Regions from separate parts of the Homo sapiens genome. Here region 1 is linked to region 2. A link means that fine-mapping ties the variant in region 2 to the expression of a gene that starts in the linked region. Tissue or cell type: fibroblasts. Region 2 holds a variant in brackets; the other region holds the start of a gene. All regions are shown on one strand. Distances are between the middles of the regions.

Region 1 (8,087 bases), 120 kb after region 2:
CACATTTAGGCACTCAGGAATTAAAAATCAAATAAAAGCATAGCGAGGTGATGAATTTCCTCCTGGCTTCCCCCTCTACTTGTGCCATATGAGATAAAAGAGAAGGCAAGAGAATGAACGAAGATCATGAGATTTCTTTCAAAAACTATACACAAGCTAAGCTACAGACTTCACTTCAGAGGAGTAAGTGGATGCCTCATTATAAAGGCCACTATGCCAAGTTTCTTTTCACATTCTGTGACAAAGTACCCATGAAATACTTTCACTTTCCTATTAGTATACCAGTCAACTATATTAGATGTTGCTTCACATTTTAAAAGTTGTCACATAGGTTTTTACCAAAGGGCAAAAATAAAGATTTTTTACATCTTATTTCACAGACTAGAAATGGCATAATTTTTGAATAGTCCAGATGAATACCATATTGAATTCAAGATGGACAATCAGATCCAAAATGGAATCAGATAGCCCATGTAATCCAAAGAAGCATTTATGTGAGTTCAAGTATGCTAAAGTAACAAGGCATAGGAGAGAAAAATGTCAAGAATCTCAGTTAAAATAAATGAATGGTGTCAGTGGTTATGTTTCAGTGGTGTGCTGAGCAGTTATCCTCCCAGTTAAGCCAAATTTCAAAATCCTCTGGAAAACTATCTAGATAAGCTGTATGTCGAAATTGCATTCTAATATGGCCATTGGGTTTATTTTTCATTATTATAAAACTATATACAATAGTAAAGTTGTACAAATACATTTTTTCCAGGTGCTAGTTAGCTATAAAAGTTAACAATATATTTTTGGGAAGAAAACCCTATGCATCTGAAATACAATTGGCAATGGAAGCTAATAACCAAAAGATATGTCTAAGCTTCCTATCACAAATATAATTTAACACTCTCCATCTTCTAAGGAATTATTCATTTTTATTTACTCATGTGACAGTGTTTGTACAATGCATTATCATTGAGTAGTGAATAAAAGACTGAGGCTTACTAGAAAACTGGCATCAAGTTATATATATGTGTGTATATATATATCATATTATTTCTTTTAACAAGAACACTGAAATTGAAGTCACAACACTCCTATACGGACTACTAAACTTGAAATACTCATTTCAGAAAGCTATGCCATTTGAATTCTAGGAACGCAAGAGTCAAAATTGTAACTCTCATTATTCTCCTAAAAAGCTGCCAAGCAGAGATAAGCTTTAGTATTAAAGATTTCACATGTCAAGTTCCAGCCCAGTATGGATCGTTTCATGGCAGAATACTTAAATTTGAAATAATAGTGGTACAAAAACACTACTTGACCCTTTAGGTATTGCAGTAAAAGCTGGCTGTGGCACTGCTGGCTAAAAACTATTAAGTTTTCCTGCCACAAATGACCAAAGGCACTTGGATAATCAAGAATTCCACACTGGGCCATATGGTATAAACACTATAAAAGCGTAAAGAAGGGTCAGTATTCTGTGTGTCTCGCCTGTTTGATTCCTGTGGTCTTCAGCTGTCAAAGACCTAGAACTGCAAACATATAATGAGTGGCAAAAAGGTTAAAAAAAATGTTGGGACAAAAAAATCAACTAAAAATCAACTAATTTTCATTATGTTTGTAAAACTGATGAATATTAGTCTAGACATTTCTTGTTATCCAACAACAAAAACAAAAAGGAAATAGATTTCGCCCAAAGTAACCTTAACCAGTTATTTGATACCAAGAAATGCCTCCACCCCTCTTGATCATTAATAGTTCTAAGAATTCTAATGGGTATTCTGTTTATCATTTTAGTGATAATGTTTACACACATCCATCTCTCCTATGCAACTCCCATTTTAAAATACATTATCCTTGTAAAATACATTACAAGGATAATGTATTTTAAAATACTTTAACGCATAATATTCCTAGATTTGTATGTTAGACCAGGACAGGGGGCCAAATCATCTCCAGTCGGATTCCAGTGACTCCTGTAACCAAAACCAGTTCTTCACAATTTATTCATTTTTTTTAATCACACACCATATGGTTTCAATGCATTTTTTTATTCAATTCAAAAGAATTTAACAAGTTAACTTTTCCTAAACAAAAGTTTTCATGTGTATTCTACCATTTTTAGGAGCTCAGTAAATATAAACATTGTTTCAATACAAAACCTTTAAAAATACCTTGAAAATGTTTAAACAGTTGTATTTTGCATGTCTTTGTTTGTAATCACTGAGCCCATACAAATCCTTGCACTACTAACAGTCACAAGCTTGAACCTCTTAAAAAATATCCTCGATCAAAGCTTTGGAATCCAGTAAAAATTAGGAAACGAGTGGGCTTCAGAATACCCTGAGCACAAACTAGTGCAACACCACATGTTCGAACTTCTGTCCACAAAGAGGGGTGACAGTGAAATAGAAAAAGGGGGAGATAAAGAACAAGTAAATTCTGGCTTTATTACACAAGCACGAAACCAAATTCCTTTGGAAAAATAATGTCTTCGGAGGACTTCCAGACCAGTGAGGTAGAGTCCAACAGTGAGAAAACGGATCTGCCCCTAAGGTCCTGGAGACGTCTCAATCGGTGGTCAGGAAGAAAGGGACCTCCCCTGCGGGTCCAGCTGTCCCCTCCCTCCGCAGGCCGGGTACGGGAGGCAGCAGAGGGCACACCTGCCCCAGCGTCCAAGACGACCGCGCCGCGGCCCGGGACAGGGACAACCATCCGGCAACTTCTTCGCGCGTAAAGTGCATTGGGGGCCGGGGTCCTGGCCGGATCTGTAAACACTCGACTGACACTTGTTCATTCCTCCGGGCGGAAGGCCTGTCCCAAGGTCGGGGCCGGCAGGAGGCGCCCTGGAGGCCGCACCTCATGCCCGGGGCACCGGGAAGCGGCGGAGCCTCACCATGGGTTCCAGGTTCACTCGCAGGACCTGGCGCGCCCTGCGCCGCGCTGCCGCCAGGCTGCGCTCGCCCCACACGTCGCTGCCGACGCGGATGGTGGGGAAGGTGGTCAGCGTCGGGGTGGCCGCCCTCCAGATCTCCTCCAAGGTGCGGCCCCCGAAGCAGGGCCCGGGGGCCACGGGCTTGGCCGGGCAGCTCTCCTCGGGGGGCGGCGGCGGTGGGGGTGGCGGCCGGGGCTTCCTCCTGCGGGCAGCGGCCGCCCGGGCTCCGCGGCGCCTCCTCCTGGCCGCTGCGCGCGGAACCGGCCGGCGCGCCTGGCCGCGGGCTGTAGGGGGCCCCGGGGGGTCGGGTACCAGGGCCCGGCAGGAGGAGTAGCCGTAGACGTCCTTGCTGCGCAGGATGTGCGGGGAGAACTGGTGCTTGAGGCTGCAGAGGAAGCTCCAGAGCTCCGCGTCCGAGCTCATGAACTCCGTGCTGCGGGGCATGAAGAGCTTGAAGGCGTCGCCCAGCGCCTTGGTGCTGTCAGCCAGCGACAGTTGCGACCGCGAGTACACCACCTTCTCCTCCCGCGCCTCCAACCCAGCCCCGTCTTCTGCCCTAAAGTCGCCGCCCCGGGCGGCCGTGGCCGGGGCGACCGGGCGCCGGCGCCGCCGCCTCTTCATACTGCGCCGCATCGAAGGCCGCTCCGGGCCACTCACGCTCGCCGGGTCCCACTACTGCCGCCGCCGTCCCAGTCCGCGTTGGCTCCGCGGCGGCGGCTGCTGCTGGCGTCTCTCGCTACTTTTCTCGCCTCCGCCGCCGCCCCTCCCCCTCCGAGGGCGGAGGACGCGGGCGAATATCCTGCTGCCCGGTACAAGATGGCGGCCGGCGCCCACCCCTGGGCTTTGTCATTGGACGGCGCCTCGCCCCCCTGGTTTCTCTTTCTTCTCCTCTCTTGCCTCTTTTCGCCGGCTGCCTTTCTTTAAATGTGCCCGCCTCAGGCCCCTCCCACCGCAGCCCCGACTCCACCCATTGGGTGCTCTCAGAAGAGGGGCGGGGACTGATGGGGGAGAGGCCAGTTCCTGGAAGATGGTGCTGGGGTGGGTGATGGCCTTTGAACGTAAGTCAACGGTTGGGTGGATCTAGGAGGGCTGCCACGTCTAGAGTAAGAGGGTGGATGTTGGCTACACCATGGGAAGAGTGACTCTTAGAGTGAGGGGGTGTGCAGTTGTGGATTGAGCTGGGAGCTCTACCAGTGTGGATAACAAAGGGAGATTTCCCTGAAGGATGTTCCTGGTATCATCACAGCTAGGGAATTTGGGTTTAAGTCTAGGGGAAATGGGCCTTTCGCAATTCCCATCCACCCTCTCAAAGGCCTCTTCTGGCATCTTCATTCAAAACTCTTCCCTGTCTTGACCCCAGCCCATCTCAAGAAGCCAGTAGTAATCCAGAATCATTCAGGTAATGTGCGTGGCTGGCAGCTGAGAGATTTTAGTCTCCCTCTGGACACTGGAGCCATCTTCATATTTAAGAGAGACCCTGCTTATCCAGAAAGCAAAACATGTCATACCCTATAAAACTAAATACTCTTTGCTCAAGTTGATCAAAGATCTATTACAATAAAGCCATTCTGTGAAAAGAAAATATAGTTTTAAATACACAGTTCTTTATGGATGCCAATTCGTTTTTCATTTAGTTTTAAAATGTCAAAGCCACCCCTATCATTTAGAAAGGATGCATCATCGCAGACAACAGATAAGGTTTCGTTGAAAAACACAAATTGTTCAAAACACATTACCTTTTGTATTGGGAGGAGAGTAGTGGACATCCTTTAGTCATCTTTTCTGTCCTCTATACCTAACTCAGTTCCTGTCAGGTAGTGGACACTCAATGTGTTTGCCGAATGAATCAATGAAATACCACCGATTATCCCAAATAGAGTCAGAAATGTTGAAACTGCTTAGAACAGGACAATTAGATATTTTATATTGCAATTTTCACAGAACTCCTTTAAATTTCTTAAGGTTAAAAGAAAAAATCTCCTGACACTTAGAACTTTGAGGTGGGCATGTGGATTTTACCCAGGAAACATCTTATTTTGCAGTAGTGAACAAATAAAGTATAGGAGTTTTGTGATTTACATGTAGTTGCTAATGGTTTCCTCAAATATTTGACCTGAAAGAGACCTAGTTCATTCTCCTTATTTAACAGGTGAGGAAATCTGTACCATAGAGGTTCAGTAACACAGCTGGCTGATAGCAGAACTGGGATTCTAAATCCTTCGATTTCTAATCTAGTGATCTTTGTATTTCACTGAAGGTTTTTCAAACTGTGCTGTCCAGACTCTAAGGAATTCAATAGAACATGCTTTATGCATAAGTAGAATGACGAAGGACAGAGCTGTACCCCTATTCCTACTTCCACCCCACCCAGAATTGAGCAGTTTTTCTCTGTCTTATAATAGATTTATGAATAATATTTTGTTTGTTCAGTTTCAATAAAACCTAAAATAAATAATTTGAAAGCTCTACACCAGAGATGTCAAATTCTTGAAAGCTCTCACCACACAATGAGTTTATGGCAAAAATAAAACTCCACACAATGGGCTTATGGCAAAAATAAAACATCTAACCAGGAACCAGCTCTCTAGCAAAATCATGGTAACTTTCTGAATAGAAAATCATTTTCCTAGAAAAGCACACTCTGATCTCAGAACAAGATTACAGAGCCAAATACCAGCTTCCTAAATCCTTATAAAGGAATGATATAGCAACAACTCTTTACATCACAATTTGCTCTTTCCGTAATTCTGAGACACATAGTAAAGTGAAATTTGAATAATTTCCATTGGAATACCCAAAATCTAGAGTGAGCCATGAGAAAGTTAGGGGGGCTTCATAATGAAAAGCAAGGATAAAACAAGGATTAAAGTAGACCTGGCTTTTCATATTGGAATCCCCTCCCTTCCTTGATAATCATCATTTTATAAATTCTTCAGGGTCTTTACCACATAAATATATTCCAGACATTTACATAAATGTATAGAACTTATTTCAATTAAGAAGATAAACCTTTTTTAAACACAATTTTGGTTCTAAGAAAACATAAGATCTCAACTTGCCAAGTATTCAAGAGTTCATTTTATAATGCATGCTCATTTAATTTACTTAAAACCAAACAATATTTTTTATGAAATACTTTTAGGAACTAATATCATGATAAAGTGCTTATGTTATCGTATACATTTAAATTTGACATTATTTGCTCTATTCTGTTTCCTCTATTATTTTTAATTTTTTCTTGACCTCCACCTTTTAATTAACTCTAATAGTCTTGCAAATGGTTCCTTATCTGTTCTCCATAAATAAGCAAAATTTACACATAGAAATAATGTATCTCTTCTAGTTCCTGAGACTTGAGATACTATGAAGTTTATGGAAAGTTGGCAAATTAAATTTTTGCTCTTGAGTAACGATATTTTACAACCCTTAGTTTATTCCTTTACCTCTCAAGGGTAATAATGCCTCCTATGTCTGCTAAATAAGTGATGAATAATAATAAACAAAAAAAAGCTGTATGTATTTACTTTCTGTATTCAATATTTATGTAGTTAAAAAATAAATCCAAGCCGAATAAAGTGATGGGAAAAATTAAATAAAATGTATCTTTTAGCTACCCAGAAGTATTGCTTTAGAATCCAATTTCTATAAAATAATCTGCCTCTTGAAAAGTGGCCAAAAAAATTTTGAAAATCTATATAAGTGGTTGCAAACATCAGCTCTGGAATCAAATAAACTTGGGGTCAATTATATCTTTACAAAAAAATATTCTTAGACACATTTTTCACCTTTCTGAGTCTCAGCATTCTCATCTATAAAATGAGTATAACTTCTAACTTCAAAGTTTTAAGAACTGGACGAGAGAATATTCATAAAACACTTACTGTAGTGCCTGGAACACAGCATTCAATAAAAGCTATTCCTATTTGTCTTATTTATTTTTGAGGATTTTACTTGGTTTAATCAATATATTTTAAGCCCTGTATTACAGAATGTCTACATATTTTTTTAAAGTAGTGGCATTGATGAGAGGAAAATAAAAACTTTACAGCTAGAAGAAACTTAGAGATCATCTAATGAGTCCAACATTGTTAATTCAGATGAGAATTCTGAGATGCCAAGAGATCTGCCTAAGGTCACAGAGCTGTACAGTGGAAGATTCTGAGCTAGAACGTAGATCTCTAACTCTAGTTCAGAATTGTTTCTAACATTCTACATTTTGTACTTAACCAAGGAGATAGCATTAATTGCTGGCTTAAATGATGTTAAATATAGCATGATTCAGCAAGAAAAAACTCAGCCTTGTCATTAGACCTATTCTAAAAGTAATTTAGATTTTTATACAAAAGTTAGCTCAAACCCTGATATGCTCTGCAACGGCTTAATGTGAAAAACATAAAGACCATATAAACTGAGAGGATAGGACTTTCTTTTGCTTATAGGAATACCTGTACTTTCCCTATTTTTCCCGCTAATTGCAACTAAAAACCTTGGATGTTATATATAAAGTATACATAAGAAGACTCTGAAAAATGGAGAAGAGAAGGCAGACAGGCTGGAGACCTCAGAGAACCCAAAGAAGGGCATGGCAGTGAGTTCCCTGGGTCTCCTTTCTTCTTCTTTTCTCTTTTTCTAGCAAATCTGAGACTGGGTGCTAGACAAGCCAACAACCCCAAAATGCCAACAGATGCAAACATAAAAAGCCCCAACAAAATCTTCTTCTCTCTAGCTACAGGACCGGGAAAGGAGGGGCAGCCTAACAAAACGGAAAGCTTTTAGAAAATAATTTTCCTACTGCTGCAAAACACCATAGAAAAAAATTATGACTTCTACCCTTGCCAGGCTATAAAAAGGCACCCCCACCACCTCTGCTAGGGTGGTATGAGAGGAGGCTGGATAAGAAATCAGGACTTTAATCCTTGTTGGGCAGTAAACAGGCAATCTGTACCCATGGTGTCAGTGGAGACCATGTGGTGAATATAACAAGACAATCCTACCCACCTTCTCGGCCCTAGTGAGAAGCCAGAATTCCTACCCCCATTCAGCAGTAATGAGGGGCTCCTTTCCCCATTTCAGGTATCAGTGGAAACAGAGGAGAAATCTGGACTCTGACTTGGCAGTATTGAGGCAGTGCCCACCCCACCCCCATTAGGACAGTGTCAGAAAA
Region 2 (8,108 bases):
GCTTTTGTTCCTTAAGGTTCTCACTCCTTCATGAACTTCAAAAAGAGACTGAGTTGGCAAGGCTAAGAGGGTAGTAGAGCATTCCTGGGTCCTGTGATCATCAACTCATTACTGTTGTAAAGCCTCTCTGACATTTATTACTGCTTTATTTATGTCATGCTACATGTGGACATTTCCCCCCTAGTGATACACAGAGATCTACCTCAGCGTTTTAAACCATGACTGTAGTGAACACTGTGATGTGCCCTCCAGGTACCCCATTCAGGGGAAGATTTATTGCCCCATGACTGGGAGTGCTGTCTGCAGACAGCCCCAAGCTGCTAGCCATGCAGGATGTGCTCGAGTTGTAGAGCACCACCTCGCCCAAGGTCACACCCTTCTTAGGTTAGCCCACTTCCAGTGACTGATCACACTGGCATAAAATGACCAGGTTATCTGACCCCATACACGACAATTCTAGCAGGCTATTTTAGTTCCAGAGCTTCCTCCTGGAGTCAGTTAAAGGTGTCACTGAAGAATGATACATGATACAGCTTTGAGCAAAGAGATATCAACCCAAGTCCAATGGCAATTTCTGGAAATTTTCATTTTCTTGATAGAAATACTACCCTGTTCTAGCTGGTTTTTGTTGTAGGTAGAACAATGACCCTTCCACCTCTAAATATCCATATCTCAATCCCTGGAACCTGTGAATATGTTATCTCACATGGCAAAAGAGACTTTGCACATGTGACCAAGACTCTTGAGATGGGGAGATTATCCTGGACGATCCTATACAATCAGAAGAATCCACGTAAGAGGGATGCAAGAAGGTTATGATCGGGGAAGGAAATGTTAGAACAGAGGCAGGGAGTAGTAGAGAGTAGTCAGAGAGATTTGAAGAGGCTGCACTGATGGTGTGAAGATGGAGGGAGGGGCCATGAGCCAAGGAATGTGGACAGCCCCTAGAAACTAGAAAAAAATGAAATAGATTCTCTTGAGAGCCTCCAAAATGAACACAGCACTACCAATACCTTGATTTTACCACAGTGAAACTGAGTTTAGACTTCTTAACTCTAGAACTGTAGATAATAAGCAGCAACAGGAAAGCAATACAGCTTCCATTCCCCTTTCTCCTACCTAGACTGTGGATAAAATGGATGGAACCGTGGCAGCTACTTTGACTTTAGGGAGAAAAGGCCAAGAATTGTACAAATAACTTGTCTTGACACCTTCTGAACTAATGCCAGCAGTTGCCTACCTCCAGATCCACTGTTGTATGAAGAAAGAAGACAAAAATAAAAGACAAAAAACACTTCTTACATACTCAAGTTACTTTAATCACATTTGCTTCACATCACAGTTGAATGCAATTCCTATCATGCAGCAGTCAAAAAAATGTAATAGAGGTCTTTTATTATTTTGAAAAGATATCCATAACATACATTAAGAGAAAAAAGACATGTTATAAAGTGTCTGAAGTATGAATCTGTGTGTGATGAATCGAATGATAAAACATTACTTCTAAGGTTAAATTCCAAAATATTAATTGAAGTTTATCATATTTTGTATAGTTAGCTTCCCTGCTATATTTTGCTTTTGTAATAAAAGTAAAGGTGTTTAACATTTTTAAGGGAGGCTGATGAAGGCAAGATAGATTCACCAAAAGCAGTTCAAGGATGAATAGCAAGTTAGCATAATCAATGTTTATCTGGACATAGAAGAGGAAAATAGAGATTGATTGACAAAAGGAAGTTTTGTAATAAAAACAGGATGTGGCAAAGGCCAAGACAGGACATAGAGATAAGTGAGTATTTATACATCGATTCTAGTGGAGTCTAAGGAACGAAAGAACAAGTGTGAACACCAACCAAAAGACCAGAAAACAAATTATAGTCATGCATCTCATAATGAAGTTTCCTTCAAGGACAAACTGCATATATGGTGGTGGTCTCATATGATTATAATACTGTATTTTACTATACTTTTCCTATGTCTAAACATATGTAGACACACAAATACTTACCATTGTGTTACAATTGCCTACAGTACTCAGTACAGTAGCACGCTGTATAGGTTTGTAGCCCAGGGGCCATAGGCTATATACTATACAGCCTAGATGTGCGGTAGGCTGTACAATCTAGGTTTGTGTAAGTACAGTACACTCTATGATGTCGCACAATGACAAAATCCCCTAGCGATGCGTTTCTCAGAACATACCCCCCTTTGTTAAATGCTGCATGACTATACTTGACTTATACTAACAAATAAGACATTTACTTAAAGTTTACATGTTGCAATGTTTTCTAAAGAAAAGCCATGTTTTTTTGAAAACACCTCATTCAACCGTTCTGTTCCCCTTTGCTTTATTACTCTTCATAGCACTTTTCTGTCATGCTATATTTTTTTACCTTGATTATTTGTCTCCTTTACAAGAATTTAAGTACCATAAAAGAAGAGAGTTGGCCTCTTGTTTTCACTGCTCTGTCCCCACTTAGCACAGTGCCTGGTATACCATTGGTCTCAGTAATTATTTGTTCAGTAAATAAATATACTACAGCAAGGATTGGTAAACATTTCTGTAAAGGGTCAGATAGCAAATACTTCAGGCTTTAAAGGCCAAGAGGCAAAATTGAGGATGTTACTTAGGTACTTATATAACAACTATTAAAAATGTGAAAACCATTCTTAACTCCTAGCCATATAAAAATAGGCAATGACTGGATTTGGCCTGTTGTCCATGGTTTGCCAGCTCCTGAGCTGAAGAATTAACAACTCAACACAAATAAAAACTATCCTTCAACTATCCTTACTTAATCTCATAAATCATTTCTGGTTACTTTCAGGAACAAATGTGGGAGCAATATGATAGTTACCAGTTCTGTGTCTTTCTAGAATGAGACATGTCACTTTTTCACATCTAAATGTTATAAGGTGATAATTTAGGGTAGGAACAGCTCATCGTAGTAACTATTACTAAAGGCCTGCTCTATGTTAGGCACAACACCAAGAACTGTGGGTGCACTTCAAGTTTTAAACTCAGCAGCAAAGACACACGCAGACAATAAAATATATTCTTAATTTTTTGAGAAAAGCAGGCAATCAGCTACAATTTACTCAGAAATTTGAATGAATTCTGTTTTTAAAATTTCCATACAGGGCACATATTAAAGAATGTGTC[G/A]TTCTGATTCTAGGATTGTATGGTGCCAAATCATATCCTGTTTCTTACATTTTTCATCTACCAGGATGTTTTTAAGTTTATTCATGTTCCCGTGCATGCATTTATCTCATTGCTTTTAACTACAGCTCAATGTCCCACAGGATGCATCTGCCATATATTACGTATTTACTATTCGGTGGACACTTGGGTGGCTTCCAGTCCCCTGTAGCCATAAGCACACTGTCATGAACATTCTCACACAGTTCCCTTTGCGGACCTGGGGGAAGCTCTGTTTGAAGGCTTCCCCAGATGGGTGTGCTTTTTATAATTTACCAGCAGTGCCCAAGGGTTCCCATTTCTCTGTGAACTCTGTGTCTTTTTAGAAAAAGGGATATCACTTTTTCACCTCTAAATGCAATCCTTGCCTTTAACTATCTAATAATCACCACTATGATGCGTTTAAGGTGATGATTCCCTGCTTTAATTTGCCTTTCTCTGATTGCTGGTGAAAATTGTACAATTCTCCATATTTCTGCCATTTGGGTTTCCCCTTCTGAGACTGGCCTATTTGTAAACTTTGACCATTTTTCTGGTTCTTCTTGCTCTTTTAGAAATTCCTTCGCTGATAATCCATTGGCACTTGGGGATAATGTCAAAAAAAAAAAAAAAAAACAAAAACAAAAAACTTCTCCCAGACTGTCACTTACCTGCTAACTCTATAATGACCATCATCTTAATGACCTTAAATCTTGGATTTGATACAAATTTTCTGCTTTTTAGATTTTTAAAAGAAAACCCTCCTCATTCAGAGACCACAAATGTTCTCCTAGCTTTTTTTTCCTTTGTGTTAGCTCTATCATTTCACTCCTTCCCATTTAGTTACTTAATCCATTGGAGATGATTTTTATATGTCATATGAGACCCTATCTTTTCCCCACTATTTTGGGATGCCTCCACTAGCCTATACCAAGTTCATATATATATAGATATACAGACACACATATATGCATATCAGTAAGTCCTCACTTAACATTATTGACAGGTTCTTGGAAACTCTGACTTTAAGTGAAAAAACATATGAGGAAACCAATTTTGCCACAGACTAATTGATATAAACAAGAGTTAAGCTCCTTTGGCGTATTTCTGGTCACAAAAACATTATGAAACTTCTAAATAAAGACCAAAACACTTGCAATATTAAACACTAAAATAAATCTGAGCTATACATACATTTAAGAAAGATTAATAAAAACAAGATAATTATTTATCCAATTTCTAGTGAGTGACAATGGTTGTGGTAGTGAGTTAAGGAATAAATGTTTGCAAAGAAAAAATGGTCAGAAGCACCTCCTGCCCCCATGCAGTTCAAAAACAATCAACTCCAAGGCCAGGCATGGTGGCTCATGCCTATAATCCCAGCACTTAAGAGGCCAAGGCAGATGGATCACTCAGGTGACCTCAGGGTCAGGAGTTCAAGACCAGCCTGGCCAACATGGCAAAACCCCGTATCTACCAAAAATACAAAAAATTAGCCGTGTGTGGTGTCAGGTGCCTGTAATCCCAGCTACTTGGGAGGCTGAGGCAGGAGAATTTCTTGAACCTGGGAGGTGGAGGTTGCAGTGAGCTGAGATCACGCCATTGCACTCCAGCAATGCAATGGGTGACAGAGTGAGACTCTATCTTAAAAAAACAAAACAAAGCAATCAAATCCAGTGGCTCACTGAGCTCCTTCTCTTTCCTTCCTTCCTTCCTCCTTTCTTTCTTCCTTCCTTTCCTTTCTTCTTTTCTTTTCTTTTCTTTTTTCTTTTCTTTTCTTTGGAGACAGAGTCTCGCTCTACGCTCTATCCCCCAGGATGGAGTGTAGTAATACGATCTCGGCCAGCTCACTGCAACCTTCACCTCCCAGGTTCAAGCAATTCTCCTGCCTCAGCCTCCTGAGTAACTGGGATTACAGGTGCGTGCCACCATGTCTGCCTAATTTTTGTGTTTTTAGTAGAGACAGGGTTTTGCCATGTTGGCCAGGCTGGTCTCGAACTCCTGACCTCCGGTGATCCGCTGGCCTTGGCTTCCCAAAGTACTGGGATTACAGGCGTGAGCCACCACACCCAGCCACTGAACGCTTTCCTACCACATCAGTTACTGTCATGCGTTTGTATGATTATTGTCTACTTTATGAATTTTTATTTGACAATAATTTGTATTCATTCATTTATTATATTGCAACTGGCATATTCCAGCAGCTCAAAGCATGAAGCGGGAACACACCCTGGAGAGGACACCATCCCACACTCACTCACACTGGGATCGTGTAGACACACCAACTCACATAACATGTACATCTTTGGGACGTGGGAGGAAACTGGAATACCCGGAGAAAACCCACACAGACATTGGGAGAACGTGCAGACTCCACACAGTGGAGTTTCCCTGGCTGGGAATCCATTTTTTTTCATATCAACATTATAATTAAATGATGTTGAATGAAATTATGTTATCTGAGGATCTGCTGTGCATATATAGTTCTCTATTTCACTGCTTTGTCTACCTGCAAGTACCACATTATTTTTTTTGTCTATGACTTTGTAAAACATTTTAGTATCTAGTGGTGTGAATCTTCCATTTTATGTTTTTATGTGGTATAGTTGCTTTTCCTAATGTGAACCCTTATTCTACTTTATATATTTTGGAAATAGTTTATCAGGTTCCCTACCCTCTCCCCACCCTAATCCCGCAGAAAAAGAAAAATTTTACCTGAATTTTGGTTGGATTTGCTATGAAATTATAGATTAATTTGGGGGTCAAATTAATATGTTTAAAAGGTTAAGTCAGTTGTGCAGAATCTGGATTTTATAAAAAATAAAAGTAAAATGTTGTTTCATTTATGAAACAGGATTATCAGGGAAACCACTACTGCTGGTCTCAGCTGCTTACAGCACCCAAGCAGTAGTTCACAGAGAAGCTGCCTCGAGTCTGCCACTGTCCCTACTTTTGTCCATAACCATAAATGATGACTTCTATTATCTCTTTCCAAATGTCATGCAAATTCCTCTCAGTAGCAGAATCAAACCCAAAAGCTCCATGGCAAGAGGCAGGGATAATGCCAAGTTGACAACTATCCACCCAGTACAAAAGAAAAACAAAAAGTTCTTAATAAATGTTAAGTGATTTTCAATAAAGTTTAAAACACACAATATCAAAGATATTTTGAGTCGAAGCATATTTTAACTGATTCAGTGATATGACATATTATTTCACTTGGAAGCATTTCAACTATTTTAAGATTTGCAGAGGCTCACATTTAAAATAGGATGAATCTTTCACAAGGAATAGTATTTCTGGAAAGATCAAACAGTCAGTATGATATAGTATTCCCTCACTGCTCACCCCTAGCCATAGGTTTATTAAACTGTACCTAGTAAGAACTTTATAATGTAAGAGGGGCATGAAGAATTTCATGACTGCCCAGACACCAGCAATAAAAATGATTCAATGTGGGGGTGAATATGATTTATTTTACATAATGTACACACTGTGTGTAAATGACTGAGTCATTATTGGTTATAAAGTATAAGTAGAATTATTATCCAGAACAGTGGTCTCCAAACTCTATTGATCATACATCTTTGTCCATAAAGTTGCTTTGATCATACACAAATATGGAAATTAAAAAATAAAATTAGAAAGAGAGTTTCTAACATTTCTTTCCAGTTTCCCAATGGACCACCTTATGCAGCTCTTGTGGGGCACACACCCCCTGTAATGAGCACTGACTTATCTACTCTCCTGTGTTTTGTCCACATTCTTCATCTAGCTGGTCAAAGCTAGGAACTGAATAAACGTTGCCCATTACATGTAGAAGGATGCGTTGATCAAGACCTAGAGTCAATACTAAATTAAGCACAAAACTGATCAAGAACTAGAGTCAAGTTCACTCCACTAAATATCATACCTGCCAGGAGGGGGCAGATGTGAACAGGGCGTAAGAAAATCCCTACTCAGAGACAGAGAATGTGGAAAAAACAAGCAGCTAGAGGGAGGTGGGGCACAAATTCTACAAGACACACTGAAGCCAGCCAGAGATAGCCCATGGCTAGAACAGGAAACAGTCTGAAAACATCAAACTAAAACCAGAATACAAAAACAACTGCCAAAGACAGAATAAAGAAAAATGCTGGGGTTGGGGATTTGGGTGTGTAGTTCACAGTGGTGAGTGGAAAAAAAAAAAAAAAAAAAAAAAAAAACCAGGAGCTTTCATCCAGAAGCCCAAAGCTGGAGTGAAGAAGAGCTTCAGACAGTGCCAGAACAAATTTCAAGAGCCAGGCAGAAATAGTCAGGACTTCCAGGGCTCAGAAGTTTATGAGGCAACTATTTTGAAACTATTCCTGCAAGTAAGACTCTTCTAAAAAAACAAACTAGTATTCTCAGTCTTGTGATTTCTGATCATAAGGAATTCTCATTCTTTCCAATCTGGGAGATATGCAAGGCTCTGGCAGACTTTTTGAAATGTTAGAGCTCAAAACACAAGTCAAGCAGTTATAGCACATTGCTGAGCAGACAGCACACATTCACTGAAGATTTGTTTACCATTGATTTATCCTGCATGAATGATGTTCCACAGAGGAACACTATCCATAGTGAATACCCCAGGGGCCGTGGAATGTGAAGGCTCTAATGCTCTTCAAGGACCAGGTGCTGTTCTAGGCCCCAGGGATACAGCAATGAACCAGATAGACAAAGCCCCTGCCCTCCTCACACTCACAATCTAGTGGGACAACAACAAATAAAGAAACAAACAGATAATAAATTCCAGATAGTGAAAGTTCAGTGAAGAAAATCAAGCAAGGAGATGGACTAGAGTATGCTGAGGGTGGAAAAGGTGGACTCTCCCTTAAAGAGTAGTCGGGGAAAAGACTTGTTTTAGAGATGTGAGCAAGCCTTGGGAATCTCTGAAGGAAAAGCATCCCAGGCA

Alleles and levels. Alleles are on the strand shown, and positions count from the first base shown. SD is a standard deviation of normalised expression in the study named.
As copies of G replace A in region 2, the expression in fibroblasts of the gene that starts at base 3,818 in region 1 goes down (small effect, 0.26 SD a copy in GTEx).

The links. PIP is the estimated chance that this variant, and not a neighbour inherited with it, causes the effect.
Region 1: CCDC71L starts here. The variant in region 2 is fine-mapped to the expression of CCDC71L in fibroblasts (GTEx, PIP above 0.99).

What each region holds. Positions count from the first base shown.
Region 1 is chr7:106,657,341-106,665,427 of GRCh38, forward strand. CCDC71L (coiled-coil domain containing 71 like) reads right to left here and starts at 3,818. Exons shown (of 1, transcript NM_175884.6): 1 at 1-3,818. The coding sequence starts at 3,556. The coding sequence ends at 2,849. RefSeq lists an enhancer at 2,592-2,641 and a silencer at 2,992-3,261.
Region 2 is chr7:106,535,557-106,543,664 of GRCh38, forward strand. No RefSeq gene overlaps it. Among named protein-coding and RNA genes, the nearest start is that of CTB-30L5.1, 59 kb to the right of the region's middle. The variant G/A (reference allele first, on the strand shown) is at 3,161.